Linked DNA regions of Homo sapiens. The protein of the gene in region 1 interacts with the protein of each later gene in a pairwise test. Each region holds a gene or a part of one and is shown in the gene's direction. Other genes may lie near its edges. The genes, in order: STMN2 and RGS6.

Region 1 (15,678 bases):
CACTAGATACATAAAATAGTTCTAGAATTTCCACAGCCATGCTATACACACAAGAAACTATTAAAGAGTGTTCGAGATTTTTTTGCAGGTTTTTTCATCTTTAAGGATATGTAGCAAAGCGCTGTTTAAAAGTATAAACTAATAATATTTAAAATCATAACAGTTAATATTTACAGAAGAATTCAATATATCTTATCTAAAAGTTCCACCCTAGCCTTAATGATAATGTAATCTACATCACTAAATCCCCATAAATTCTCACTTTCCTTCTGACCACATTACCTTATTACATTCTGATCTTGTCAGGTGTTTTGAAAATCTAATGTCATACACAAGAGTCGTACCTAACAGGTACAAACTGCATTTCCTAAAGAGACACCAATGAATACAACCCTACAGAATACACAACCAGTAGACATTATATAGGAAAAGACACCAGTGAGAGTCAGCCTTAGAACTATATCGAAAAGGGCCATTTCAAGTGTTTCGAGCCGCTACTGCTGCTTGTAAACTCCAGAACACAGGACCCATGGACTTATACTTCTTAATGCAAACATATTAAGGATCTTACAACATGAATATCCATCCCCACTGGATATCTAACCCTGAGCTCACTAAAAGGCCTCCAAAAGTAAGAAACTTACAGAAGTAGATCATTGAAACAGACAGTTGCCACCGCTGCAGACACTGCCAATTGCACAATTTTTTATATGGCTCAGGCACATATAAAAAATATTAACTCAAACACATCTATTCCACATGCCTCAACTTAACTGTAGGTCCCTCCTCACAGTTGCTACTGTTACTTATATATCCAGAGCCTCAAAGTCACCTATGGGAGGTAAGGATAACAAGGAACACGTGACTAATAATGCAACTTATGATTGAACTGTTTTGTCATGAATTAATTCAGAAACTTCACGACTTGTTTAAATTTATGTAGAATGTTTGTTCTTTGCAATTAGACCAAATACATTTAGGTGGCAACTGATACCAACTGATTATTTTCATGTCCCTTCTATATTCACCCAAAAGATTATTTTTCCTATTTAATTAGATAGGCCTCTCATGCTAATGACATCAAAATGTGACCTATTCTTTGTCCAGATCATCTTTGTAAGGACTAAAAAAAAAATTCTACTATTTCTCATATTTTGTGGGGAGCCTGACATGGTAACTTACCAGAAAATATGCAAGACACCAAATATCAGTAGTGTTTTTTCTTTAGACTGAAATGTGTGATCCTCATTTTATAACTAGGACCAAAAAACAAATAAAGCAGCTCAAGTTTGAGAAGTCCAACCAACCAGCATAAATGTATTGGCTAGACTAATCTAGCTAATAAAATTTTTCCTGACTATTTACAGGTCAACCATCTATTGAGTCAATACAGTAACCAATACCTGGATAAACACTTCAGGAAAAGTGGAACCATTAATTTGATTTTTTTAAAAAAAGCATAAATAAGGTTGCCCAAACTGATCCATGGGACTTGTTCTCCTAGTTGGTTATAGGCCATTTCAAAACTAAATACAAGATGGGATTTCAAACGTTTCTTTTGACATTTATAATGGTCCTCATTTTCTTCTGAATGAGATGCAATTACTTTAAAAATTACTATAGTGCCATTATGCTAGGCTGACACTCAGCTATATCTGAATCCATATAGGCTGCTATGACAAAAATACCACAAACTCTTTAGCTTTTAGACAACAGAAATTTATTTCTCACAGTTCCGAAGGCTAAGAACTCCAAGATCAAGGTGCTGGCAGATTTGATTGCTGGCGAGGGCTCGTCTTCTGGCTCATACATGGCACCTTCTAGCTGTATCCTCACTTGTGATAGGAGCCAAGGCAGCTCTCTGGGGTCTTTTGTATAAGGTCACTAATCCCACTCATAAGTCACCCCCGCTCACGACTTTATCATCTCCCAAAGGTGCCACCTCCTAGTACCATCACCTTGGAGGTTAGGATTTCAGCATATGAATTTGAGTGGGGACATAAATATTCAGTTCATTACAATTCTGCATCAAAAAGACTGAAGCTATCACAGCTCACTCAGCAGACTTTGGCTAAAAGAGGAACAACTTTACTGTAGTAGAGAAATGGTGCACTCCTAGCTTAACTAAGGTGAAGGGCTCAGCAGAAGTCCAGCAGAGTTCAACAGCAGCCACACCTAGAAATAAAACATCACTTTCTGTCACTTTTAGTAACAAGATTTCTCCAAAGCCTCATAAATAAAGTTGCCTTCTGTGATAACTGCCAGTCTGCTTTGGGGAAAATGCTCTCCCTGATAGGTTTTAATTAATCAGCTTGCCCATAGACAAAAAACAATATTTCACTGTTCCTCAGGCTGCTGTAGGTTTTGTTTTTATAAATCCCCCCTTGTCTGGTTTCATGACTGATCTCCAGCACATGTGAATAGATATCAGCCATGCTTTTAATTAAACTGAGTTATTCTTTGGTGAGATGGTCCTGAATTTAATCAAGCTTCAAAATTGACTTTCATTTACAGAGGACAGGAACAAGTTAAGTGACCACATTGGAAGCAAAGAGTCACATCCAAAATGTAAGAAAGTTCATAGGACAATTGACCCAGTTTCTACAAAAAGCCAATGGTGGGAATTTTAAAAATGAAGGGAGGATTGTACCAGATTAAAAGAGATTTGAGAAACATAAAAGTGAATAGAATATGCGGACCATATTTGGGTCCTGTTTTAAACAAAGCAACAGTATTCTTGAGACAATCATGAAAATGTGATTATAATTGTTAAGTATTTTAACAGAATTGTATTTATGTAAGAAAGGTTCATGTTTTATAGAGATACATACTTAACTACAAAGAGTGAATTTAAATGATTGTCGTGACTTCCTTTTAAAGTTTTCAGCAAAGATGAAAAAGGAAAAAGAAACAGAAGCAATAAAGTTTTGGTAATTTCTTAACTTGACTAATACAAGTTCATTATTTGCTTTCTTGTGTCCATTTGAAATAGTTTATGACAAAAATATAAGTACAATATTTTTATATTTTGATGTAAATATTCAAGCTATTGAAATCCTCTTTCCAAAAGAGGACGTTTCCTGCGCATTCTAAATAAACCCAAATAACACATCTGCAAATCTCTGGGCAATTTCTTTTCTGCCTCAAAAGGCAGCATTTGCCGCCTAACTGCACATTGCTCTGTTTTTGCTGAACTGAACTAAAAAGATAGGTGTAGTTCAGGAAGTGATCAAACCAAAAACAGAAAAATCCATTAAATATGTGACGAGAGGAAAAAAAAGAGTGGAATGGGGTTTTGTTGTCTCTAGTTGAGTTCAAGTTTAATGTGTTTTTTTTCTTTTTTTTTTTTTTTTTTTTTTTTTTTGGAAACGGAGTCTCGCTCTGTCGCCCAGGCTGGAGTGCAGTGGCATGATCTCGGCTCACTGCAAGCTCCGCCTCCCGGGTTCAAGCCATTCTCCTGCCTCAGCTTCTGGAGTAGCTGGGACTACAGGAGCCTGCCACTATGCCCGGCTAATTTTTTCTATTTTTTAGTAGAGACGGGGTTTCACCATGTTAGCCAGGATGGTCTCGATCTCCTGACCTCGTGATCCACCCGCCTCGGCCTCCCAAAGTGCTGGGATTACAGGCGTGAGCCACCGCACCCGGCCGAGTTCAAGTCTAATGTTACTGTCAAAGTAAATATTTGATGAAATTGATTTTTAAAAATACTACCTACATCCGTTAATTCAATTCCATTTGATAACACAGCAGGATGTGGGTGGGGGAAGTTCAGAGGGTCAGAAAATTAGTTAATAAATGACTAATGAGAAAATCTCCCAGGAAGGCAGTATACTAAAATGCTTTTGCTTTTCTCTTCCCTAAATCCTCCTCCTCCTCTTTTCAGCTTGATTTAGAAAAATAAGGTTCTTAGGCAACTGTTATTGTATGTATAATGCAATGCTCACAGTAGGGGTTCTGTTTAAAAAATAAAATAAATTGAGGCTTGTGGGATAAACAGAGTGAGTCACACTTCTCCCAGATTTCTCTTCCAGGCACTTCAGTGTTGTCTCCACTGTTTGGTTTGTAAACTAAGATGCTGAGTGAAATCTCAAGGGGAACCAACTTCCCAGCTTCAATGGTGTCCAACTAATGTTCTCCCTGGACTCAAGCTGTAAATCAACTCATGGAGAGAAGGAAAAAGTTAGTTACAGTAATTGCTGCCAAGATAGCGAGTAGTTTTCAACATTATCAATTTAATGTAAAGATTCAGCTCATTAAATTTATATCAAGCCTTTCTTATGATTAGAACAAGTTTATTTCCAGAAAAGTTCAATTATAAAACTATCAATAGGATTTACTAATTTCAATAAGTCATTTTGCTTCAGGGTGAATTATACTAATTATTAATACATACAAGTCCCATTTGGACATAAAGAAAACCCTAGGTAGAGAAAAAATAATAATAATTAACTAATCATTGTTTATTTTTAAATAACTAATTTAAGAAGAAAACAATGAAGTGTGTTTGTTCCACACTTCAGAAATAACTCTAACACACTGGCAAATTCCTGAGCAATACAGAGCTCACTGCTAATAAAGAACACCAACTCTCCCTCCTTGGAATGACTTTCCTTTTGAATAAACCATATTAGACAGTTCTATTAAAGGACACATGATCCTTTTTATTTTTCATTAATCTATAAGAATTTAAACATGGCAAAATAATCAAAATGTTAAAAAGTCAACTATTTTTTCATGTGTGATTATTTTAGATGCATCTCTAAATATCTTCAGCTATAACTACTTTATATCCTAAATTTCTAAACATCTAAAAAAATTCAATGGATTTTATCTCTCACATTTCTTTTGTAATCACCTGAGGTCAGATCAAAACAATTAATTTGACCTTAACAATGTTTCTCTTATCTCACTAACTTTTAATAATTACTTTAGGATTCTTTCCCAGGCACTTGATTATGAATAGCAGAAAATCATATGACTGTGTTAGATGGCATCAGCTAATCCTCCAAAGCAACTGCTTCTCTCTGGTTTGGAAAGAAATCAACACCTCAGGCCTCCTCACAGAGATAATACACACTAGGCTATAACCCACAATAATTAAAATTTCTGTTAGCAAGTCTGTGATTTCCACAGCTCCAGCTTACTGCTGGCTGTTAAAGATAACAAAAATTAACAAGGGCCATCTACTATTGTGAGCTCTACTCATTTAGGTTCTTTGGGAATAGGGCAGGATATAAATAAATAAACACTGGTAAACAGCCTAATACCTGCTCCCAACACAAGCTAAGCAAAGGAGGTTAGAAGTGTCAATATGGTCTCACTGGATTCATCCATTTTGAATCATTTTCAACACTGTATTATTTATTATTTCACAAATTGTTTTTAACTGTCTACCACGTGAATCATGAAACCAACCACTAGGAAGGGTATAAAGATATACACTATTCATTCTCTACCTTTCAAAGGTTTAAATGTATTGGAAACACTAAATATAGTCATAGTACTTAAAATTACTATATATCCATGATGGCTTAGACAGTTCATACATGATAACCCTTCAGTCTACCCAAATCCCCACACGACAGATACTGGTTGTCCTTAGTTTATACTGTGCAAATGTAGTACCTATTCTTTGAGTGTCCACCCATTCCCATCAAAACCATTTCCTTCAGGAAAAGCTGATCTCACCTCCAGACCTCTAGGGCCAACTCTATCTATATGGTTAGACGAAACAGCAAATGCACTTTTATTATTAGTGCCAGTTTGGGTTATTTTTTCAAATTTTTGCAACAAAGTGTGATCCACAATACACAAGATCATATTCACTCCCCCAAATTAATATTTTCTTAAAGAGATGGGTGTTATATTTTCCTTCACTTTCTATTTTTCAGACATTAAGGAGAAGCTTGGCTGGCATCACAAAAGCCTGAAACATCATCAAATAAATATTTGTTGAATAAATTAGCTGAACAAATGAATAAGTGAATAACATATTGAATATGAAATAATTTTTCTGTTCATATTTCACCCTTACTTTCCCATGTGAATATGCATGATACCATATTGTAATGATAAAAGAAAACAAAAAACAATTTGATAATGGCACAGCCCTTTGAATTTATTTGTGTTTTCTTAGCTGATTGACAATTTTGCCTACTATCTTTTTATTCTATGGTAAATCATATTGACCTACTCTCTTCCCTGTTTGACATTATTTAAAAATCATTCATAACTGAAGTTAGGTGGCTAACACCTAGAAAATCGGAAATAGAAAAGAGTCACATATGTGACCCTTAGGGCAGTAGAATGAGTGTTTTGTTTTCCTCATAGTCATCAAAAGTGCAATCGATTTCATTCAGCAGCCAACTGCAGTTGTTAAAGAAACTAATGCCATGACTTAGGGCCCTTGTTCTCCAAGGAAGCTGAAGAATGTGTAGAGATGACACACAGCCTGAGGGGAAAGGGTGTGGTGGGGAGAAGAGAAATACTTTGAAAATATTAGTCACACAGACATGCTGAAGATCCTTCACCTCATGAGTGATAACTACTCCAGTGAGAGGTGATTAACTGTTACATTTAAAGTGGGAAATGCCTATATATAGAGAGAAAATGGTTATTTATTTCCAGACCCTGCCAACTTCCATATTGCTCTCTTGCTGTGTCATAGTCACAGACCTGTTCAAAGATAGGAAATATAATTTCTAATCTTCCTGTTCAAGAAATAATTTTATTGATCTCCACTTCATCTTTTATTTTCCCCATGATTCAGCAGGTCAAAACTGTTCCAGTTCCAGTAGCATCCTATCAGTCAGCAAAATGTCCATGAGGTTAAAATGTCTTACAAGTTAATAGGAGGTGAAGAAATTCATTTCAGCACCAAGGAGAGTGCCCTGCTATTTTCAATTGGTTTTATGTATTTGAAACTGTGTATTGTTCCTGAGGATAGAAAAAAAAGTTGAAATGTGATTGGACAGAAAGCTGCTAAAAACCTATTTTAATAAGAAGAAAAAAATACATTCATTTTTCTGAAATTAAAAACTTGCCAGGGTTTCATACCTGTTCATGATTGCAACAATGTGCTCTTCTTTTGGCTTTCAAACGTCGGAATTAGCAATTCTTTGCCTATTTTTCTAATATTAAAACCAGTTTCTGCATGGAATTAGACTGGCTCAATAAAGTTACAGAAGAGTTAAATTAGCAGTAATTAAAAACTTCATGCAGCAACTCCTAAACTTTTTCTCACCATTTTCAGAGCTGTGCACATGGTAAATGCTCAATACATATTTAAGTCAAGTGAAAGAGAACAAATGAATGACTGGCATCCATTAAGTGAGAAGGAGGAACTAATAAATGCCTTGTTTGTAATGAAAGTCATTTTTTGCAACTAGTCTCAAAGATCCTCACATACGACATTGCTCAATCCGAAACTTGAACACAGCCTTCCTGGGCCTACATAAACGTAGTCTCTCTGGATCTCAGAAAAATAATGACCCAGACCACACCTTTCATCTCTTCTAAGTTTTCCATGTAAAGCATTCTCCTTAGAGCCCTGGAAAGGTTACTAAAATTTTGACCCACTTAATCCTACACCTTCAGGGCAACATGGCATTCACCTGTGGTTTCCTTAATGCCCAAACCAGCCAGCCAACCTGTTTTCTGCCGTGTTAACAAATGGACAGGACACAGGCACCAGAGGTTAAACTTTCTTCCTCTTCCCCCATGTCCCCAGGTGGACCATTATTACCATCCCTATTCCCAAGCAACCAGGTAGCCCCTTCCTCTGTGCCAAGGGAAGAAAACACCATGCTTCCCTCTCCTGAGAGACCTTCAAGAGTTTAGAGACGCCTAAGTCCAGCTGTGCTAAAAGATAAAGGACAATAATGCAAGTCTGCTCTGAGCTGCCACCATAGCCAGACATAGGGTAGCCCTGAAAGACTAGAACCAAGGACAGAGCCAAAGGTGAAAGAAAATATGAAAAAGTGAAAACACAGTATTTAAACAGAATTTTCCAACAGCCTGCATATAGTGAGGACTTCTCAAGCTTCTGAATCCTTTTCCATTGAATTGTGCAATGGCACATGTATGAGCAAAGTCAAGCCTCCTGGCTCCCAGGTAGGCACAGCCCAGTTCTTAGCTCCTAGGAAGCTTCAGGGCTTAAAGCTCCACTCTACTTGGACTGTACTATCAGGCCCCCAAAATGGGGGGAGCCGACAGGGAAGGACTGATTTCCATTTCAAACTGCATTCTGGTACTTTGTACTCCAGCACCATTGGCCGATCAATATTTAATGCTTGGAGATTCTGACTCTGCGGGAGTCATGTCAGGGGACCTTGGGAGCCAATCTGCTTGAGCTTCTGAGTGATAATTATTCATGGGCTCCTGCCTCTTGCTCTTTCTCTAGCACGGTCCCACTCTGCAGACTCAGTGCCTTATTCAGTCTTCTCTCTCGCTCTCTCCGCTGCTGTAGCCGGACCCTTTGCCTTCGCCACTGCTCAGCGTCTGCACATCCCTACAATGGCTAAAACAGCAATGGGTAAGGCACTGCGCCTCGTTCTCCGTCGGCTCTACCTGGAGCCCACCTCTCACCTCCTCTCTTGAGCTCTAGAAGCATTCAGAGATATTTTATAAAGAAAAAGATGTTAATGGTAACACAGGACCAGGAAGGACAGGGCAGTTCTGGGGGAGGTGGGAGGGCAGAGAAGAGGTCTATGGAAATCTAAAGCGAAGAATTTCTTTTAAAAGGTAGAAGCGGGTAAGTTGCCCTCCTATGGGTAGAGAATTTATTCTGTTTCCATATTTAAAATTAGGACTCAATCGTGAGGGGAGGAAGCTACCTTAACTGTTTGCCTTAAATGGGCTTAAGGGACATTTTGGAAAGTGCTTTATAACGACCTTTTTTTTTTTTATTTCTTCTCTAGTTTAAGAAGAAAATAGGAAAGGGGTAAAGGGAAGGTGGGAGAAAGGAAAAAGAAAATTGCAAAGTCAAAGCGGTCCCATCCCGCTGTTTGAAAGATGGGTGGAGACGGGGGGAGGGGATGGAGAGAACTGGGCACATTTTACGGTATTGTCTCGTCGAAGAAACCGCTAGTCCTGGGGTGCGGTGCAGGGAGGTAAGACGGCGGGGGACAGGGTGGGGGTAGGACCTCCGCTCCTTTGTTTTAGGGCAAGGGAGGGGAAGGAGAGAGGAAGTCGCGGAGGGCGTGGAGGGCGCGGGTGGGCAGCTGCAGGGGCGGGGAAGCGCGCGGCAGGGAGGGGTGGAGGGACAGCGGCTTCGAAGGCGCTGGGGTGGGGTTTCTTTGTGTGCGGACCAGCGGTCCCGGGGGGAGGCACCTGCAGCGCTGGGCGCACAATGCGGACAGCCCCACCCAGTGCGGAACCGCGCAGCCCCGCCCCCCCGCCCGGTGCTGCATCTTCATTCGAAAGGGGGTCGGGTGGGGAGCGCAGCGTGACACCCAGGAGCCCAACCCTGCGGGGACAGCGGCGCCACGCCCCGCGCTCCCCGCTCCCGACTCCCCGCCGCGGCTTCCAAGAGAGACCTGACCACTGACCCCGCCCTCCCCACGCTGGCCTCATTGTTCTGCTTTTAAGAGAGATGGGAAAAGTGGGTTAACATTTTTCTTTTCGGAAGCAAATTACATAGAGTGTTTAGACATAGACACAGATAAAGGGTTCTTTGAAGACCTTTGATCGTTTGCGGGAAAAGCTTCTAGAACCTAGACATGTGTATGTATAATAATAGAGATGACATGAAATCGTATATAAAGCAAAAGAGGTCAAAGTCTTAAGTTAAGCCACGCGAAATTTCCGTTTTGTGGGTCAGACAGTGCCAAATATCGGCAATTTCATAAGCTCAGAGAGACAAGACAGTGGAGACACAGGATGACCGGAAAAGATTCTGGATTCAGGGCCTTCATCCGCAATTGGTCTTGTGCCTTGAGTGCCCACGGTTCTGGCGCTCAGTGGCCCCGGGGTGAAAAGGCAGGGTGGGGCCTGGGGTCCTGTGGCAGCTGGAAGCACGTGTCCCCCGGGACTTGGTTGCAGGATGCGGAGACAGGGAAAGCTGCCGAAAGGACTCCATCTGCGCGGCTCCGCCCTGCCCTACCCTCCCCGCGGAGCCGGGGAGACCTCAGGCTCCGAGACTGGCGGGGAAGAGGAATATGGGAGGGGCAGTTGAGCTGTATGCAGTCCTGGAACCTCTTTTTTCAGCCCCGCAGTCCACAACGGCCCGAGCACCCCTTGATGTGCGCAGACCCCCGGCGTGGCTCTCAGCCCCAGCACCGAGCCCCTCCCAGCCAAGCGGGTGGCTCTGCAGAAAAGCTGGCTCGAGCCCCGCCCGGCCACACAAAGGCGCGGCCCCACCCAGCCCGGGCGCGAGACCGCAGAGGTGACCCCCTTCCCAGGGATTCAGGGAGGGCTGTCTCTTCTCGCCCACCCACGGTCCGCGGAGCTCGGGGCTTTTTTTCCCCCAGCCCAAGCCCCCCGCCCACCCTCTGTTCTCTATGATTTTCCAGAATGGAGACCCCGCGAGGGGCTTCTCTAAGGGAGACCCTCGCTCCTCCAGCGGGGCGCGGCTCGGCCCCACCCCTCCCAGCTGAGGCCCAGAGCCGCCTACCGCTGGCCGGGTGGGGGCGCACGTGGCGACTGGGTGTGTGGAGCGCAGCCAGCCCTGCAGAGCCCCGCGCCGCGCCCTGCGCTCCCCTCCCCGGAGTTGGGCGCTCGCCCCCGCGGTGCAGCCGGGGAGACCGGTTTCTGCGCAGTGTCCTGAGCTACCCCCGCTTTCCACAATTCGCAGTTCACTCGCACGTCCAGAAAGGTTCTGAGAATGGGTGGTGGGGGCGATCTCGCCTCGCTTTCTGCACCCCTCAGAAAGGTTTCCGCTGCAGGCTAGTGGCTGCAAACTCATCGTCATCATCAGTATTATTATCATTTCAAATCGTTGTTATTATTTAATGATTCAGTAGCCTTGTTTGTTCTCATTTGTTCAAAAGGGACGTGGATTGCTCTTGGTTAAGGATTAACCCTTGTTGCGTTCGCTTTGCTTCCTCCTAATTGCCCTCATCCCTTTCCCCCACAAAAAGGTAAATTTGTCTCCAGTTGTTCATTTTAAGTTATAAAGCAAATATATTTTTGCTTCCTGCCAGGATTATGTATGTTCATGTGGCTAAGATACATGTGCAAGTGCTTGCTAAGAGCAGGGTTTGTGTGCCAACGATTGCTGGAAAATTCTCTGCAAAGAATTGTTTGTGGCTGCAATGGGTGAGAATACACATATATAATTGAGATGATCTTCAACATAAGGTTATATCTATAAATATATAAATATAGTTTATGCACAAAATTTTAAGTTTTTTCCCCTGAAACTGTTCTTCCAACTGCTGATTCTTGATACAGCCTCAATCCTACACAGATACATGGATCGTGAAATGGTAGCCGCCATCCAAATAAAAATCCCACCCCAAATATGACAAACGCAAGCATCCTTTCTGGCCATAATTTAACTGCATTTGCAAATCATGAAAAAAACACTACTTCTGCAGTATTAAAATAATAGATTTTGAAATTAATTCCAATTTCAAAGATAATTAATTATCAGGGCGAGTGCTTTTTTCCTGATTCATTAAACAATTATGTATTCAGCATGATTGTAAGAGGTGCATATAATATTCCCCATTATCTTTTCTAATGAAGTGGGCACCTTCTGAATGGATATATAAGTAACTAGAAATGAAAAGCTGAGGATTTGGTCAGAATTTCAGGATAAAACTGAAAGAAATGGCAGTAGTTTATCAATTAATCTCATGTATTTAGTTTATACCAGGTGAGTAAGCTGAGCCTGCAATAAACACTCTCTGTCCCAGTGTAACACGTCGCAGGTAGCTAGAATGATAGGATAAATTAATAGACCTTGTGGTGTTTGTCTATGCACGTTAAAATTCTCTGAGAGAAAGTATATTTTAAAATGATAATTAAGATTGGACATTTGTGCTATTAAAATCTACAACTTTAGTCAAAATTCACAATGGTTTTTTTTTACAATAATGTGACTTACAGATTTGTAGTAAATTATTCTATTCTAAAAGAGAAATGAGTGTTTTTATTGTTACAGCTATTACCTCATTAATATTTTTAGCAAACTTTTATTTGTTGCATTGAAAGCAGTTTTAATTACTTTGGGTTTTTATTTTTCAAATTACTAATGGATAGATGGTGGAATAAGCATTTAATCATTTGGCACAATATGACTTCCATCAAATAGCTCATTCTCAGTGATTAAAAAATGCTACAAGAGGCTACAATTTACTCAGATTCAGGAAATGTCCTTTCAGAGTGCCATAAGGCTGATTCATATAATAAAATAGTTTTCTTCCCTATAATTTAAGATCAAATAGTTACTTAGTTCTGTGAATACCTAGCAGTAGCTATCAAACAGAATTTTAAAGTTAAATCTGTACAACTAACAATGAAGTGGAGGATGAATCGATACATATTGAATGGAAGACTTTGTCATTGATAAATTCAGGCCATCTTTAGGAAAATTCCGGATTTATCAATCACCATTATTTTTTACTTCAACTGAGTGTGACTGATCACATGCTCAGGCTACCTTGGTAGCTCATTGCTCACAGGAGGCTGAAAAAAGCTGGCCTCCGAGCAGGAGGAAGCTCAGAGCACAAACCTAGGCCTGGGCGTGGCCACTGGGAGCTGCTGATAGCGAACCCCAGCTCACACCAGTTTCTTTTTTGGTCGTGGGAAGAAAAACACATATTATCCTGTTGTCACAAGATCTGTGACCTTATATGAAAAAATGCTAGAATTTTTTCATTAAAAAAGAAAATACTGAACTAGCCAGTGACCCAGATGTTTTCAGAACCTAGACTGGTTCTGTCCATTGGAAAACCTCGGTGTCTGCATTAACTTTTCACCACACTAGAGGGCAATCATGTTCTCTAAAAAAGCAGATGATTGATGTAAACCTAGTTCCAAATATTAACTGTTTAATAAAATCTTTTCTTTTACCAGGAACATTCAAGTGTTTATTCAATAAGCTGATGCCATGCTTTACCCTAGTGGATGAACAGAGCTTGTACAATTTTCAAGGAGACAGGATGAAATGAGTGGTCATAATCTGAAAGTAGATACACGCCCTGGTTAATTATTCCCTGATGGTTTTACTTCTCAGTTTTATTACATTGTTATTATAATACCATTTATGTTACTTCTGAGATTTTGTAGTGGATAAATAGTAGAAAAATGTCAGTAGTAATAGCAAAGTTATTTAGCAGCCGAATATTTTAATGCTTAAAAATAAAGGAATAAATTAAAGAAAATCATTGTTTACTTCTTCATCGATTGAAATGTGCCCCCTGTTCAGAGCACATCTGAATATCAGAGTCTCCACCTGCAGAGAACATGCAGCTTAGCGAGTAAAACAGGCAGGTATGTGATACTGAGGAGGTGTACCAAAAACTGACTGCTGTTATTTTTCCCATCTTCTAAGTCTGTCTTTCTTTTCCATTTAAAGATACCTTTTTAAATCTAATCCAATGTGATTTCAATCTAGTTTTATCAGATTTCAACAATTATTGAGCATCTCCTTGTAGTGGTTTTCTGTTTATTAGAAAATCGATGTTAATTTTAACGAAGTAAGAAGAAATATATAAGTATAAACTAATTTTGGGTATCATCAAAAGTGGATTTTTTAAATATGCATTGATAGAATTATTTTTTGATTACATTTTATGTAATTCTAATCCAGCTATAAAATATTTAATAGTGTCATATTACTGTGTTCCTCAAACTTTGATGTGCATATGAATTACCTTTGATTTTCATTAAAATGCAAATTCTGATTCAATACATCTGGCTTGAGGCAGACATTCTGTCTTCCGAACAAGCTCCCAGATGATGCTGATTCTGACCACTAAACACATCAGTTTTAGGGATATTAACTTGTAATATACAGGTATCCCTCCTGGTAAGCTCTGGTATTATGTCTTAACATTTTTAAATCTATGGTAATCTTTACAAAATATTTTACTTCCGAACTCATATACCTGGGGATTTTATTACTCTGGGAATTATGTGTTCTGCCCCATCACTCTCTCTTAATTGGATTTTTAAAATTATATTCATATTGCAGGACTCGGCAGAAGACCTTCGAGAGAAAGGTAGAAAATAAGAATTTGGCTCTCTGTGTGAGCATGTGTGCGTGTGTGCGAGAGAGAGAGACAGACAGCCTGCCTAAGAAGAAATGAATGTGAATGCGGCTTGTGGCACAGTTGACAAGGATGATAAATCAATAATGCAAGCTTACTATCATTTATGAATAGCAATACTGAAGAAATTAAAACAAAAGATTGCTGTCTCAATATATCTTATATTTATTATTTACCAAATTATTCTAAGAGTATTTCTTCCTGAATACCATGTGAGAAAATTCTTAAGAATTTATTGAGTATGACTGTATATTTGAAAAGAGTGTTTTCTTCTGCTTATCTAAGCCAATAAAGGATCTTCATTATTCAATTCTAACTTTCTAAGGAAGTCAACCTACAGATCAGAAAGAGGATCTTCAAGGAATAGCATCAAAGACATAGTCAGGTCTCCCATGCAGTGACTGGCTGACCATGCAGCCATTACCACCTTTCTGGAAATATTATGCTGCAAAAATGATACAATACACGAAATATCTCAAATTAAAAAATATAACATTTCCCAAATAGGGCACTAAAAACATGATCCCAAATAAAACTAGCTTCAGGGTTTGCAGAATATACTGTTACTCAACACAAAGTTGGACTAAGTCTCAAAGTTAGCCATTCAGTTGTTGTTAACAGTTCATTTCAGGGTCTCTCAGAAGCTGGGAAACTTTCCATTTTTGCAATTTCTTGTACATTGAAGGAAAGGAAGACACACTTAAGACAGCATTACAAAAGTAATTCATGTTTTAAATGTTTAATTCTGGCAGTCGGGCAGGGCTCTCTGTATAACCTCATTTGGAGATGACAAAAATCTAAACTTGAGGGCCTCGAGCCAATAAGTCTTCCTATTTCTTTACTCAAACATTTTCCCGCAATGGTGCTTTCTTTCAACTGTTTTTCTGGTGTATTCATAAATTCCAGATTCTCTATGGGAAGTAACTTTTATTGATTGATTTAACCCTTGTATAGCACATATAACATGCAAGGCATTGTTCTAAGAACTTTCCACATATTAACTGTGTTAATCACTTAATAATCCTAAGTAGGTTCTATTACAGATATGGAAACTGAGGCACAGAAAGTTGAAGTATCTTACTCAAGGTCACACAGTTAGTCAGATCCAGAATTTGGGCCCAGGCCATCTGGCTTCGGAATCCATCTTTCACCGATTGCTGCTAGTCTCATATCTGTTCCATGTTAGAGGTGAGCTCCCATTGCAGAGGTCACACCTGTGATATCACCATTTTATTTAAACAGACCAGAGATGGTCTTCTCCTTTCTGATCACAGACTCACCTTGAAGAGAAAATACTTCCAAATTGATGCCTAGTTTTAATAGCTTACCTGGGGCTTATTCAAATAATTGCCATGATTTAGGCTTTGGGAGAAAGAGAGCTATGAGGCCGTGTGGGTTGTAACGTATGAGACACATGGCGTTCTGCAGGCTCAGCACAGCATCGATTTCTGGTGGGAACACA
Region 2 (14,938 bases), on another chromosome or scaffold:
CAAAAAGAATGCTTTCAGACAGTGTTTTAGGATCTGTGGGAACAAAGGGTGGCCATCCTGCATTTGTTATGTTGTTTCAACATAGCATTTGTTATGTTGTTTTATTAACTTTAAGTCCTTGGCAAAGCAGCTTGACTAAGATAAGATCCAGAAACCAGTCGTGGTAACAAGGCAACAATTAATCTTAGATAGAACAGAAAAGGAATCCGCTTCAAATTCTCTTTAGAACAGGAAGGAAAGGGTGATCGTGGGTTAGCAGGAAGGAAGGAAAGAGGCAAGAAAGGAAAGTGAAAAAAGAATGGAAATGCTTTCTCCTGCTGGTGATTTGGATGTTTGGACTACTCTTGTCAGATGCTACAGCGTAATCACTGTAAATGTTTTAAAGGACGCGATATTATGACAGATTTCCCTTTCTGACTTGTTCCTGGGGCTGCACACACAATGATTTACTCCCTGCCACGGGCTGGAGGCTTGGCCACTCCTGGGTTGGTCCAAGGAAGCCTGGAATACCCAATGCCTGTGAGAGTGAGCACGTCCCCCTGTCTCTAGGTGTTGTTGCTTGTGCTGAAATGGAGTCTACCAAGCATTGCCATGGCATGGAAGGGATGGTGGCGGAGTAGATGCCACTGCAGATTGAGTGCAGTGTCCCAGGCAGCCAGGGGCAGCCGCTCAGCCCTTGCCTGGACCTGAGGACTGTTGCATCAGTCTCCAGATGAGACAGCAGCTGTCATGGTGGCTGAACCAGGGAAAAGAAACTCCACTCTGTGGTCTCCATGGGGCTAGGGAAAAAAGGAAATGGGTTTTTGTGATTTTCCCTTCTTTAGAAACAAAAGTGCTTAAATGTGATTCTTTAGCTCTGTAAATGCAAACCACGGCCTGGTGGACTGGGGAGAACAATTAGGCCAAAGGCTGAGCACAGGAAGCCAAAAGCGGGTGGAAACCCAGACAACGGTGCTGAGCCGGGGGTTGGGGTGGTTGGGGGGAGCGGATATGATAGCAAGGAAGGAGTTTCAATGTGAATGAATACTAATTAGTGACATGGATATTAATGATGACAGTAATTAACAGGGGAAAGGAAGGGCTGTCATTGTCCCAGGGTGAGTAATCAATCTTGGCAGGTGATAAATAATGGTTCAGCAAGCTCAGCAGAAAGATAATCCGCAGGCCTGGGGGAGAACTCAGCTAATGCAGGAAACCTCACAGTTTCTAGGCAACCCACAGAAAAGAACTATTTTTTTTTTCTTTTTTGAGACAGCGTCTCACTCTGTGGCCAGGCTGGAGTGTAGTGGCGCGATCTCGGCTCACTGCAACCTCCACCTCCCGTGTTCAAGCAATTCCCCTGCCTGAGCCTCCCGAGTAGCTGGGACTCAGGCATGTGGCACCACGCCTGGCTAATGTTTTGTATTTTAATAGAGACGGGGTTTCACCATGTTGGCCAGGATGGTCTCAAACTCCTGACCTCGTGATCCACCCTCCTCGGTCTCCAAAAGTGTTGGGATTATAGGCATGAGCCACTGCGCCTGGCCAGAACTATTTTTCTTTTGAGGAAAAAACAGATTAGAGTATCTCTCCCACCCCCAGCTTGGGACTACAGTTCTTATTTGATTTCTGCTTTGTTCTTCATTTCCTGGGACAAATGTTGAACTTGTATAACTTGGAGGAAAGGGACACACAGGCACATGTACACACACACATATTCATTCTCTCTCTCTCTCTCTCTCTCTCTCTCTCCAAGAATACGAATGAATACGAGTGTTTTTGATCTAAAGTTTGACTCACAGATGCTGTCCAGGAGTAGCAAGAGTGAGGAGAAGCCTAGAAGTGCTGCCTTTGAGGTTGGCGCGGGGAAACTGCAAAATTGCAAGGCTGTGTCGGCAGAACTGGGGCACACAGGAGGATGAGGATGGCCCTGGGGGTCCCACTGTGCAGGGTTACTTCACCTGCCATGGACCCAGAGAGAAACAAAATGTCTAGGCTTTCTGTCCTGTACCAGTCCCACTTCTGGCCACCAGTCACATATCTAAGAAAACTGATTTCTGGGAAGAGGGCAATCCTCATGAAGCCCCTCTGCTGGATCCCCAGGCCTTCAGCCAGGAATCCAGCCCAGGAGAGTTCTTGGCACATCCCCTCCCTCTCACCAAAGCCTCAGACCCACGGTAGGACTCTGATATCTAAAATGTCTCCCCTTGCAGGCTGTGTTCCATCAAACAATTTAGAGGTGACAAAGCCACACCTTCAATGGTCTGCACTGGTTTAAAGTGAGATCTTTGGGTGGCAAAGGTAGATTGACCAGAAATTCAGAACCTTCCAGAAAACTGAACTCCTCTACTGCCATGTACACAGTGCTGCTCTCAGAACATTGTTTGCGGGTCACATTTTCAAAGAGAGGCAGACAGAAGGGAACTTATTCAGAGGATTGGGAACATATGGTGAGGAACTCCAGGCCACACCCTGCAAGGAAGCAGCTGAGGGACCCAGGCCTGTTGCACTTGGAGGGAGGACGTCGCTGGTATGCCGCAGGACTGTCTGAATAGCTGAAGGGCTGTCGCACAGAGTGGTTAGGTTGGGGTTTGTTTTTCTATCATCAAATGGCAAAACTGAGGCCAAAGGGAGGAAGTCAGAGAGGGGCAAGTTTCTGTTCAGATAAATCAAGGCTGATTTAACTGGGTCAGGCTGGGTAGGGGGGAGTTTGTGAGTTTCCAGGTACTAGGGATTCTAAACACAGGTTACAGCACCTCTTGTCCAGGGTGTTGTGAATGGGACATGTATTGGCTGGGGTTGGAGTAGACAAGCTTTAAAAGTTCCTTCAGGGCCGGGCGCGGTGGCTCATGCCTGTAATCCCAGCACTTTGGGAGGCCGAGGCGGGCGGATCACGAGGTCAGGAGATCGAGACCATCCCGGCTAAAACGGTGAAACCCCGTCTCTACTAAAAATACAAAAAAATTAGCCGGGCGTAGTGGCAGGCGCCTGTAGTCCCAGCTACTTGGGAGGCTGAGGCAGGAGAATGGCGTGAACCCGGGAGGCAGAGCTTGCAGTGAGCCGAGATCCCGCCACTGCACTCCAGCCTGGGCGACAGAGCGAGACTCCGTCTCAAAAAAAAAAAAAAAAAAAAAAAAAGTTCCTTCAGACTCTTAAGATTTATATTCGTTAAGGTAATACTAGATACCAAAACAGCTAAGTCCCAAATTTCAGGGGCTTAACACAACAAAGTTCAGTCCTTTCAGTCCTCAATCAAGTCAGAGCCCCACATGGGCGTAATGTCCATGGTTGGAACCGTGGCTCCCTGCCTATTGTGGCTCTGCATTCCCCCAGGTCTTTGGAGTCCCCCACATCCAGCCAGTAGATGGGATTGAAAGGGGCAGAGCTAAGGAGAGCCATGTAGGAGTTTTTATGGTCCAGGTCTGGAAGTGGCATATGCCATTTCTACCCATATTCTATTGGCAGAACTCAGTCCATATCTAAGTGCAGGGGAGGCTGGAAATGTAATCTAGCTATGGCACAGTGAGGAGAGGAAAGAGGTCTTGGTGAATACATAGACGTTTCTGCCACAAATGCAGGGACACATTCATTCAGGATAGGCCTGTGCCGGAAGAGATGAGAGTTTTGCAAGAACCTATGAGGTCACCTGTGTTGGTCAGCCCTTGTAATTGATGGTAGGGAGCTGATGAGGCCTCCTTCTTCAAGAAATGGTCTGGGGGCCAGGCATGATAAAGCTTCACCTAGCACGTCTCAGGGAAGTCCTCTATAGACACTTCCTAGAAACATGAATATAAGCTCATCCTGCATCATCAGAAGTGAGTGTTTTTTGGACAAGAATGGAATTGTAACTATGGAAGTGTACTGAAGAATGGAAAGGGTTGGTTAGGACAAAAAAAAGTGCCCATATTATCCTGCTCTACAGTGTGGACTGTTTGGAATTAGGATTCTCTTAGGTAAACATGTTTCTTCTGCCACAGTGTTAAACACCCAGGAGGTCTTCAGCTGAAATTGCTTTATCGTTGCAGGTACTGACATTGTGCAGTGGCTTATGAAGAACCTTTCCATTGAGGACCCAGGTACTTGACCTTTGACCCCACCCTTATCTCCCCTGGTATCAGTAAACATCCCATAACCAAGTTCCAAACTAGATTCCCCTGCCCTCCTGAGAACTGGTCTTGTAAATGTGAATTCCAAGACGTGGAATCACTCTATTTACAAATAAAATTAATTTATTTTCTCCACTGAATATTTGTCTTTAAATTTAAATCATGCTTTGAGGAAATGAGCAACTTTTTAGAATGCCAAAGAGCCCAATACAATAATGTGTGAAATGAGTTGAATTCTCATTAGCTGCAGCAATTAAAGATAAGTTGTAGCACTGTCACTGAACAGCCTTCTAGAGCCAGCTCTTAAAATTAGATTGCCTGATCCACAATTAAGATGTTTAATTATTTGCTAAGACTCCCTCTGTTTTCTGCTTCTGCAAGAAGTGAAGGAATGATTTTTTTTCAACTTTAATTGCGCATTTCAATTAGGAAGACCTTACCAGGAAAACAACAACAGAACCCTGGCCAATAAAACAATTTCCCAGTCTGTTCTCCCACCAGAAAATAGGCAGTAAAATTTATTTTCACAGTGTAATTAGGAAATGGGGGGGGTGTTCCAGAAAAATAAAAATTCAAGATAAGTAAAGCTTATTCCCATGTGCTGTCAGTTAATACTTTTCCGAATTTATTACATACTCCTTTGCCTTGATTAACTGAGTATTCTTGATGCCTGAAGGTCACATTTATAAAGATCCACTAATACACTCTGATGTTCTTAATGGACATTGGCGTGATTAGACTTACCTGCCCCAAATTAAATGGCCCTGAACCACAATGCTTTTTGAAGATTTTTTTGAAGTGCCCATTCTGCATCCGTGACCTTCAGCTGTGAGTCCCTGCTGGAATCGGTGTGTCAGCTTGGCACTCCTGTATTTTAACCCAACATTTCTAATCTGTTGACTGCAAAACAATACAGTTTCTATGCAGTTCAATTATATACAGTTGTTAGAACTCTGAGTGCCAGAAAAGCAGATCATTCATAGAAGTGGCCCGAGTCTTTTCACCCCCTTGATTAGTGGCTACTCTCACAACTAGTGAAAATTCTTAATTCTAGTCAAGTTCTTGATTCACAGGGAAAAAACTATAAATGCTAACCCTTTGTAAAGGATAGAACCCAAAGCAACTCACTATGTGTTGTCCCTGATGCAGCCTGTACTTCTGAGTGTCCGCTTGGAAAGCCTGGACTGAATCAGCATCTACCTGTTTAGTTACATTTATCTAAAGTCAGTATTTCTTGTGATTATAATGCTAAACTAAGGAACGTGTTTCCTCATGGCCACCTTTTCTCTTCCAAGAGCACTGGTTTCTTTGCCTCCTAAAATAATCGTTGTATTTCTGACATATATTTTATTATTACTATTATGAGAACCCTAAATTGGCGAGCAGTATGTGAGAATGAGCTTCAGGAATCCTCCAGCCCTGGCGTGAGAAGCTTCTGTGAAGGGTCCTGAATGATGAGAGTTATTTCTATGAAAATCTGTTATACTCTGATGCCCTTGGGAAGACATCATGGTATAGGGGCCTGTTTGGGCTTCTGAGAAGTGGCTGAGGAGAAGCTAAGAACCATTTGTCAGCTGGGAATAGTCTAAGGGGGGAGATGAGGCAAACCGAGGCCTTGGGAAACAGTCAGATCCAGCATCTGCCCCTCTCTCCCTTCTTTTTCCCATCAGTCGATTTCCTGTGGTTATTTTTTGGTTTTTGAGGCAAGGTCTCACTCTGTCACCCAGGCTAGAGTGCAGTGGCACGAGCATAGCTCACTGCAGCCTTGACCTCCCTGGCCCAAGCCATCTTCCACCTCAGTCTCCCGAGTAGCTGGGACTATAGGCTCCTAGCACCACATCCAGCTAATTTTTTGTTTTATTTTTTGTAGAGATGGGGATCTCACTGTGTTATCCAGGCTGGTCTTGAACTCCTGACCTCAAACAATTCTTCTGCTTTGGCCTCCCACAGTGCTTGGATTACAGGTGTGAGACACTGCACCTGGCCCCATTGGCCAACGTCTAAGCAAAAACATTTTTGCTCAGAGAATGAAGTTAGAGTCTTAGCTCCAAGACTGGTGGCATGAAAGTCACCTTCCTACAGGATTTTGTTCTTTCTTCTCTGGGGAAGGAGCAACTGCTGATGATGAAACTTCTGTTCTAGCTGGACTCATGGTTCTTGAAGCATATGGACTTTAAAAAGCAAACCGGCCAGACATGGTAGCTCATGCCTGTAATCGCAGCTCTTTGGGAGGCTCAGCTGGGAGGACTGCTTGAGCCCAGGAGTTCAAGACCAGCCTGAGCAAGATGGCAAAACCCTACCTCTACCAAAAAAAATAAAAAAAAAATTAGACAGACGTGGTGGCATGTGCCTGTGGTTCCAGCTACTTGGGAGGCTGGGGCAGAAGTATCACTTGAGCCCAGGAGTTCAAGTCTGCAATGAGCTGTGATCATGCCACTGCACTCCAGCCTGGGTGACAAGAGTCAGACCTGTCTCTAAAAAAAAAAAAAAAAAAAAAAAAATAGCAAATTGGTCATCACTAAGCAAGTAAAATAAAACTCTATTCATTCCAATTCCACCAGTTACATGTATGTTTCTTTCAAAGGAGAATAGGTGGTTCTTGATACGCAAAACATTGCATTGTATTCAACTTCTTGAAAAGTTTGCAAGTAAAGCCAAAACAAACTACTTTAAAAAGTCAGAGCTCGTGAAATTAATAATTGCTAGAGGCTCCCTGAGCACATTAACAATTTCCATGTCCAAAAATTAGTTTTAACCTGTAACAGTACTTTTGGATTTGTGAAAGATTGTGTGTGGTAGAAGCATTGAGGTTTGTTATTTTTTCTTAGCTCTGCTCAGGATAAATCTAAATTCTTAACTTTTTTTTTTTTAATTGAGACAGGGTCTCGCTGTGTTGCTCAGGCTTGTCTCAAACTCCTGAGCTCAAGCAATCCGCCTGCCTCTGGATTACAGGCGTGAGCCACCATGCCCGACCTATATTCTCAACTTTCTATGTGCATCTATTTATGGCTGGTGCCAAAGGAACGAAGGAACAGATTGACTGTGGCAAAAATATAAGTATTTCTATCAGGTTAGCCTCTCTCTGTCACTGCCCACTTCAGTGTCCTTCCTCTAATTTTCAAAGGAAGTGAGGTTTTCCTCTCTGTCCATAAGAGAAGGGTGACACCCTTCTCATTCCTGATGGGACTGTCATATTGGGGAACGCACTGGGAGTCCTACGTCTCTATGGGCAGCGAGGCTGCATTCTTACTGCTGGGGATGATGAAACTGGTATGAATCAGAGCTGCTAGCACTTACGGAGTATTTGACCTGTACCAGACAATCACTTCATGTGAAATATCTCACTTAGTTAAATACAGGTTCTTCTATGCCAGAACTTATGCCCTTGACCCTGAAGCCAGACTTTCTTCTGAAGGTCAGGGTGAGGAGGGGTTAAGCCATGTCAGACTCTCAGAGGTGGGATTCAGACAAGTCCCAGACACATAGTTGCCCTTTCCAGCCATTGGCATCTCCCCTCCTCACCCCCACACTGAGCAAGGGCAATTGTATCATCAACACAGACATCTGGGGGTGATGACAGTTGACTTCTGGTCTCCCAGCTTAATTTTCAGCCAAATAACCTGCTTTCTAATTCCTTCTCTCTCTATGCACTGTTCTTACAGTTGAAGCAATACACTTGGGGAGCCTTATCGCTGCCCAGGGCTACATCTTTCCAATCTCAGACCATGTTCTCACCATGAAGGATGATGGCACCTTTTATCGTTTCCAGGTAAGCCTGCTGGCTCCTCCTCCTGAAGAACCTTTTCTTCACAACATCATCTGATCTTAGGTTAGAACTACAAAGAAAACCTAGGGATATCTGAGGGAGTAGCCCTCACTCCTCATCAGCACTGGGAAAGCCAAGAGAACTTTTCTCTGGGCCACTGGGTGACCCACTTAGAGAATAGTAAAAGGCTGTCATTGAGAGCCTACCATGCCCTGGGCACTGCCTTAGTCCCTTGGGCTGCTACAACAAAATACCTAAACTGGGTATCTTATAAACAAACAAACAAAAAATTTACTTCTCATGGTTGTGGAGGCTGGCAAGTCCAAGACCAAGGTGCCAGCAGATTCGGTGTCTGGTGAGGGCCTGCTCTCTGGCTCATAGATGGCACCTTCTAGCTATATCCCCACATGGCAGACAGGACCTGGGGCTTATATCAGACCTCTTTTATAAAGGCACTAATCTCACCTGTGAGGGCTTCAAAGGCCCCACCTCCCAATACCATCACCTTGGGGATTAGGATTTCAACATGTGAATTTGAGGAGGATGCAGACATTCAGACCATGGTAGACACTTTGTACAGATTTCCTCATTTATTCTGAAGAGCACACTTTAGGGGGTAAATATTACCCATTTTACAGAGGAGAAAACTGAATTGCTCAAAGAATTAAAGTGTCATTTAGTAAATCCTGGAGCAGCCTTCATCTGAACCTAAGTGAGCCTGATAGCACAGACCTTGATCTTTCTACTGTCTCATGTTGCCTTCTCGGAGTGAAGTTTCTATTTGCGACCTAATCACCCTCCCCACCCATTTCACACTCCTTCTCCCAGATCCTTCCGTAGAGGGAATGAGGGCAGAGGATATGGGCTTGAATCAAGGTCTAACCAAAGGGTGTGGGAGAAGAGTTCTTCAGACTAGGTTAAAGGGAGGAAAGGAACATGGGCTTAGGTGCCCAGTAAGTTATGCCAGCCTGACTTTTGTACTTAGACCTCTATTGTCTCAGGATAAGAATATATTGCCCTGTGAACAAAACTTAACATTTTTGCATTTGTTTTGCTTACTTACATTTTGCTTCTCAATGCCTAGGTTAAAATGTTGACTCACCTTAGCTGAATTAGAGAAGAGGAGAGAATTGTGGGGTAGCATCAGCAAGAAGGAGATGGGGGAGAGCCTGCCATCAGGGAGGCTCCTCCCTGGGTGTGGGAGGGAAGCGCAGGCATGGCGCGCCCCTGAGCACTAACACCCATGCTCCTTTGCAGGCTCCGTACTTCTGGCCTTCGAACTGCTGGGAACCTGAAAACACTGACTATGGTGAGAACTGAAGCCACTGGGAACTCTCAACTTCAACACTGTGTGTCACTTCTGGGGGTGCAGAAGACAAATGCTTGGTGTGGGCCATGGTGGTACATGGGGAGGAGGGTCCTTTCTGCTTAGTCCTTTCTCATATTGTTGCTATATAACAAATCTCCTGTTCCACATAACAGAGGAAGGCCCAGCTTACTGAAAGATGTAGTCCTTGGAGGGGAAGCAGGAGAGGGAAGAAAAATCTTATCAAGGGTGGTCAGTATGTTCATCTTGGGGCCATGGAGAACCAGGATCCCACAGCAACACTATCAGATGGTGACTTTTAATTGTTCTTTCCAGGGATAGGGCTTCAGGGAGGGCTGGATCAAGGGGCTACCTCCTCCTGGCCCTTTCTGTTCTCATAGACTTGTCAAAACTTACTAAGAACCTTTTGGTGTTCTTGACAGTTGCAATTTAGAAAAGAGACAGAGACCAGGGAGGAGTATACAGAAGTCACTCTGGACTAGGAAAATAGAGTGGGTGAAGTTGAGAGTTCTGTCTCTCTAGACAGGGACCTACAAGACTTCTGCCAGATATTCTCAGTGGAGATTATTTAATATTCCTATATGCCAATTCTCTGAAGAAGTTTTATTATCGCTATGCTTAAGAGAAAGAACCTGAGGCCCAGAGGGGCCACACCCTCACACTACCACATTGTCTGAATGCTCCCTTGATTATAAGCCTCTTGAGGGCAGAGGCTGGTCCAGCTTATGCATTCTCATATCTCCAGGGCATAGCCTATGTCTGAGGCAGAATTAGTGCTCAGTAAATATCCACTGACAGTTCTGGTTCTTTATTGAAGGTGACCAACAGACACTCACTAGAGGGAGCAGAACTTGAACTCAGATCTGAGTGGCTCCAAAACCCATACTTCTTTCACGGTCCCATGTGTGACATGCCTGAAGGTTGTAGCTGCAGCACTGCCCCTTTGCATGCATCCTTGCTGCTGACTCAGCTGCTGTGGCAGTCTCATCTGTGGCTCTCCTTGGGACTGGGACACTCAATGAGACCTGCAGCTTCTTTGCAGAATTGTTTAAGACAAGAAGGCAGATGCAGCTGTGGTGAGTGGGAGGGAGATGTGCAGCTGGGTGGTGATCAGGGGAGCCTGTCTGGGAGACCCATGGGATAAGATACAACCTTGGAGTCACACGTTTGAGCAAGAGGAAACCAACAACAGGGAGCCAAGCTGAGGATGGAATACAAGCGAGTTGTACCTACTAAGGCTGGAGTTGTTCCATGGTCAAGTGTGGAGGACGTCAGTCATGCAGAAGGGCAGGCTCTGGGGCTGTCTGCTTGGCTATCCACAGGCACCACTGTGGGCCCTCTGACACTGTGCTGCACCCTAACCAATGTGATAAGTGGATCCAGGAAGACTTCCGACTGCAAGTGAGAGCTGCATTTGACCGCTCATAAAACTAGTGCTTCTGGGGCTGAAAAGACTGCTCATGAAAGCCCAACTCAGAATTTGAATAATTATAGCTCAGTTCCATGCAGCAACGTGTGCCCTTGTGAATGTGAAAACCAGTATTTTTCCAGGCAGTGGAGAGGGTGGGAGGATGGTAAGACCAGATACCTGGGCCCAAGTAAGATTAAAATATTTACTTCCGTAAAGCTTAGGGCATCTTATGCTGCATACTAAAGGGCATCATCTCCCTGTTCTACAGGTGTTCTTCATTTTATAATTTTAATTGTGCATCATGAACAGGGAGAGAAATAATAGTTTGTTTCAGGCTCTCATTAAACAAAAATTATTTTAAATTCCTGTGCCTCAATTTATGGCAAATCAGAGGGAGAAATCAAGGTTCAGGATGCACAAGTGTTCACCAGGGACCAGGCATGGTGGTGCATACCTGTAATCCCAGTGACTCGGGAGGCTGAGATGGGAGGATCACTTGAGCCCAGGAGTTCAAAGCTGCAGTGAGCTATGATTGTGCCACTGCCCTCCAGCCTGGGTGATAGAGGAAGACCCTGTCTCTAAAACAAAGAAAAACCAGTACTCCCCAGGGTTTCCAAAGCAGTTTAGTTAGAAAATCAGGATGTATTTATGAAGAGAGAATCCAGCACAATGAGCCCCCAGGATCAACCCGTTCCACTAGCTGGGTGATCTTGGCAAATTACTTAACCTCTCTGTGCCTCAGAGACCTCATATTAAAATTAGAGTAGTAATGGCACTTGTCTCCTAGTGTTTTGTTAGGATTAAATGAAATGCATGTAAGGTTCTCTGAGTTAATACGGAGTGGTGGTTGGTATCACTACTGGGGTGGGGTCGGTATTATTGCCACTGGGATGTTGGTTGATATTATTATGACTGAGGTGACCGTCTCACCAGGAAGCATGTGAAACTGAAGCTAAGAATTCAATATAGTATGATTTGGACTGATGAAGTACCAGAAACTTTCATTCAATTGACAAACGTTTACTGGTCCCTACTCTGTCAAATTCTATGTCAGAGATTTGAATAAGTCACAGCCTTTCCCCGCAAGCATTCCAGGCTGGGAGAGGCAGCATGATGCAGGGAAGAAAGGCATGGTGAGGATCTGGCTTGAGTATTCAAAGGTTTTATGTGATGAATGACTGAGAAGGCTGAATAGCTTGGGAGGGGCAGGTTTATAAAAAGGCCTTGGCAGTCAAGTAGAGACATTTAGAATGGATTCAGCAGTTTGGGGAAGCTATTGTGGGTCCCCAACAATGAACACACTTTCCCAAGTTTTTTCCCTACTTGGGAAAAAATTGGTTCATCTATAAGATGGGGGTAATAACAGAACCCACCTAGTAGGGTTATTATGAGGATTAAGTGGACTGTGGAAGATTAAGTAAGGGCTGTGACTTAGTCAAATAGTTCCTGATATTCAGTGGGCTCAATGGAAGCAGTAGCTGCTACGATGGTGATTTTTCCAGCACCTAAAACGGTACTTGGCCCATAGGAGACACTCAGTACATTTTTGAATGAGTGACTGAATGAATAAATGGATCGGTGAATGTCATAGAGGAAACTCTGCACTGGTCCTCGATTCTAATTCCATCTCCATCACTAACTAGCCCTTGGGTCCATCACTTCATTTCTCTGGGCCTTTAGTTTCCCCATCTGTAAATGAGGGGCCTGTACTTGATGGTTGCCAAGGTTACCTCCAGTCTAAAATTCTTTGGTTCTAAAAAGTCATCAGAAAGTATGAGGAAAATAGAGAAATAAGTGAGTTATAGGTTCCCTAGTTTAGGAGATTGAGGTACATAATGATGTTGCTAGTAAAGGCAGAAAGTAAAGAAAGGGGTCAGTTTCTTCAGTACATTGAAACTCGATAAGCTCAATATTTTTTAAGAAATTTAATTGCACATATAATACATGAATGTGTTCCCTTTATACAATTTTTAAATATGTCCCAGTTTTGTGTGGTGACACATGGTGAACTTGAGATGGCAGTGGATTTCTCTGAGTGAGATGTGAGATATAGGTAAGGGTGGAATGCCAGATGTAAGGACAAGGAAATAGAAATTTTTCGGTAAGAAATTAAATATCCAAGAGAAACCAATATCTGAGCTTAAGACAGTTCTTCCAGATGCCCTCTTGTAGGGCTGGCTATTGTCACCAGTAGTCACTAGAGTCGGTTGGAAGTTAGAGCAAGCCCTAGTGAGGGCACTCTGGGATGCAGACAAGCCCCAGGGAGTTCTGTGCCAAGAACAGCCACATCCCACCTTCCTCATTGTGGTGAAAAGATTCCTTGTGTGACTTTAGGCACAGGGACATTAGCTAGTAGCATGTGACCCTGTGACTCATGGCCATCAGGAGTGGCCCCAGCTCTGCATTCCATGCATGATAACTCACTTCACAACCCCGCTGTCCCATTTTGACCCCGCTTACCCATTTGGACATTTCTTGGGATGACTCTGCCTGCATAAAACCCACAGTCAAATCCAGGTTAGCCTTTTCTGAGTTTTACATTTGGCCAGTGCAAAATCCTGTCCAGGGCAGCATTGTCAAAGCAGCTGCCACCTCCACTGACCTGCACTGCTCAAAGGTAATCATGACCTGGCCCAGTCGAGCTGGTGACATGTCAAGCTTCCTGCCTGAGGTTGTCCCTAATTCTGCCAGGGGTCCAAGAGACTGAAGGAGGTACTTTGTGATAGATCGGACACCCCTTTATCAGACACAGTGAAGCACTATAGCTGCTTGGTTCATTGGAAAAGTTGGTAAGTAGAAAATCATTTTTAAAACGACATATGCACACCTTAAGCACCTCATGTAAAGGTAAGATATACAAAGGAACACTCATTTGACAGCCTTGTGAAGTAGGACCAAAGTGTTCTCTTTGATTATGAGCTGAATAATTTTAGTTTCTTAAATCAACCGCACTCAAAATAAACTACCCTGTTTTGGTATCTTTAAAGTGCATCAAGAATGTAAAGACATTTTTGTAGTCTTTTGTATATTGGCCCCTCCTAGATTTTTATTATTTTTCTTACTTTTTCCTGTTATCTCACCTGTATCAAATTCACCAGCAATTGCCTTAGCTAACTCTCCTTCATTAAATTGTTCCAAACCATTCAACTGAGTTTTCATAGAAGCAACACTCTCTCTCTTTTCACATTAATTTCATTGAGACGTGTGATATTTAGTGAACTTGTGTGATTAAAATAACAGATGTGCCTGATATAAGCAGATTTGGGAACAACCACAACTGACTCCTATGAGCACACAATTCGCCGGGTGGAAGCAGAAGTGTGGGCATACCAGAGGGTAGGCTGCTAGCTTCCAGGCTCCAAAATGTCATAGGTATCAGTAAATTTTTCAGAACAAATGAAGGAAGTTGGTTGATCCAGCAAAGAGTTGACTAGAGATCTCTTAGTAAAGAGATCTTGTTGTCCAACAACAAAATGATCACAGGTTCTCTCTGGCCCTCCCTCTTGATCATTCTGTTGTTCATTTATTTATGCCATTCATCTACTGTTTTCCCTGGATTGTTCCACTTGGCTCTGGAGAAGGAGGAAGACATTGAAGAAGGAAAGGTAGGGAGAAGAAGTGATGATGAAGGCCATGTTTGAGGAAGAAACAGGGAAACCAGGGGCCAAGAACCTTTCCTTAGCCTGAGTTGAGAGACCTAAATTGTCTTCCCTTTCCATAGCCTTTTTACTGCACCTGACAAGACAGGCTATGGTGCTAGCAACAGGGATGAAAGCTGAGCAGGACATAGCCTCTGCCCTTAAAGAGACTTCAGCCTAGAGCAGGGGACAGTCTAGTAAATACAGGATTTCAGTGCAATGGAATTTAGTTCCATGGTCAAGGACATGTAGATGCTATCTGAAACACCAACTTGGGTCTTCAAAGATTAGTAAGAGGTTGCCAGATAGAGGGAAGGAGAGAAGAGAGAAAGACTTTCCTCAAAAAGGACACATATGCAAAAGAATGAAGCTGAAAAGAGTTTGGTGGCCTCACAGTGCCTGCATGAGGGAGAAGAAGTTGATGAGATAAGCAGTGAGCAGATCATAAAGAACCATATTTGCCATCCTAACGAGCCCAACCTTACTTCTGAGGCCATTGAGGACTCCAGGCAGAGCTTTTAGGCACTGGAGTAATGTGGTCATGTTTGTGAAATATCACTCTGAGTGTAGGATGTTCAGGGTGAAGCAGAGTGAGGAGGAAGAAGGGGAGTTGTCAGGATTGGAATATGGAGGAGTCCTCATTTGATCATGACTATGAAAGGATTTATAGAGGTCAGGGGTCATGAGGTCCACTTAGAAAACATATTTTTC

What was found.
Region 2: the proteins of STMN2 (region 1) and RGS6 interact in a two-hybrid assay, tested with the Homo sapiens proteins (one study listed by BioGRID).

The regions. Positions count from the first base shown.
Region 1 is NC_000008.11:79,602,682-79,618,359, forward strand, and holds the start of STMN2 (stathmin-2), read left to right. Parts: upstream 1-8,435; 5' UTR 8,436-8,514; coding exon 8,515-8,533; intron 8,534-15,678. UniProt on the Homo sapiens protein: Regulator of microtubule stability. When phosphorylated by MAPK8, stabilizes microtubules and consequently controls neurite length in cortical neurons.
Region 2 is NC_000014.9:72,450,524-72,465,461, forward strand, and holds part of RGS6 (regulator of G-protein signaling 6), read left to right. Parts: intron 1-4,004; coding exon 4,005-4,055; intron 4,056-7,747; coding exon 7,748-7,854; intron 7,855-9,108; coding exon 9,109-9,160; intron 9,161-9,333; coding exon of another isoform or gene 9,334-9,469; intron 9,470-14,170; exon of another isoform or gene 14,171-14,194; intron 14,195-14,938. UniProt on the Homo sapiens protein: Regulates G protein-coupled receptor signaling cascades. Inhibits signal transduction by increasing the GTPase activity of G protein alpha subunits, thereby driving them into their inactive GDP-bound form. The RGS6/GNB5 dimer enhances GNAO1 GTPase activity.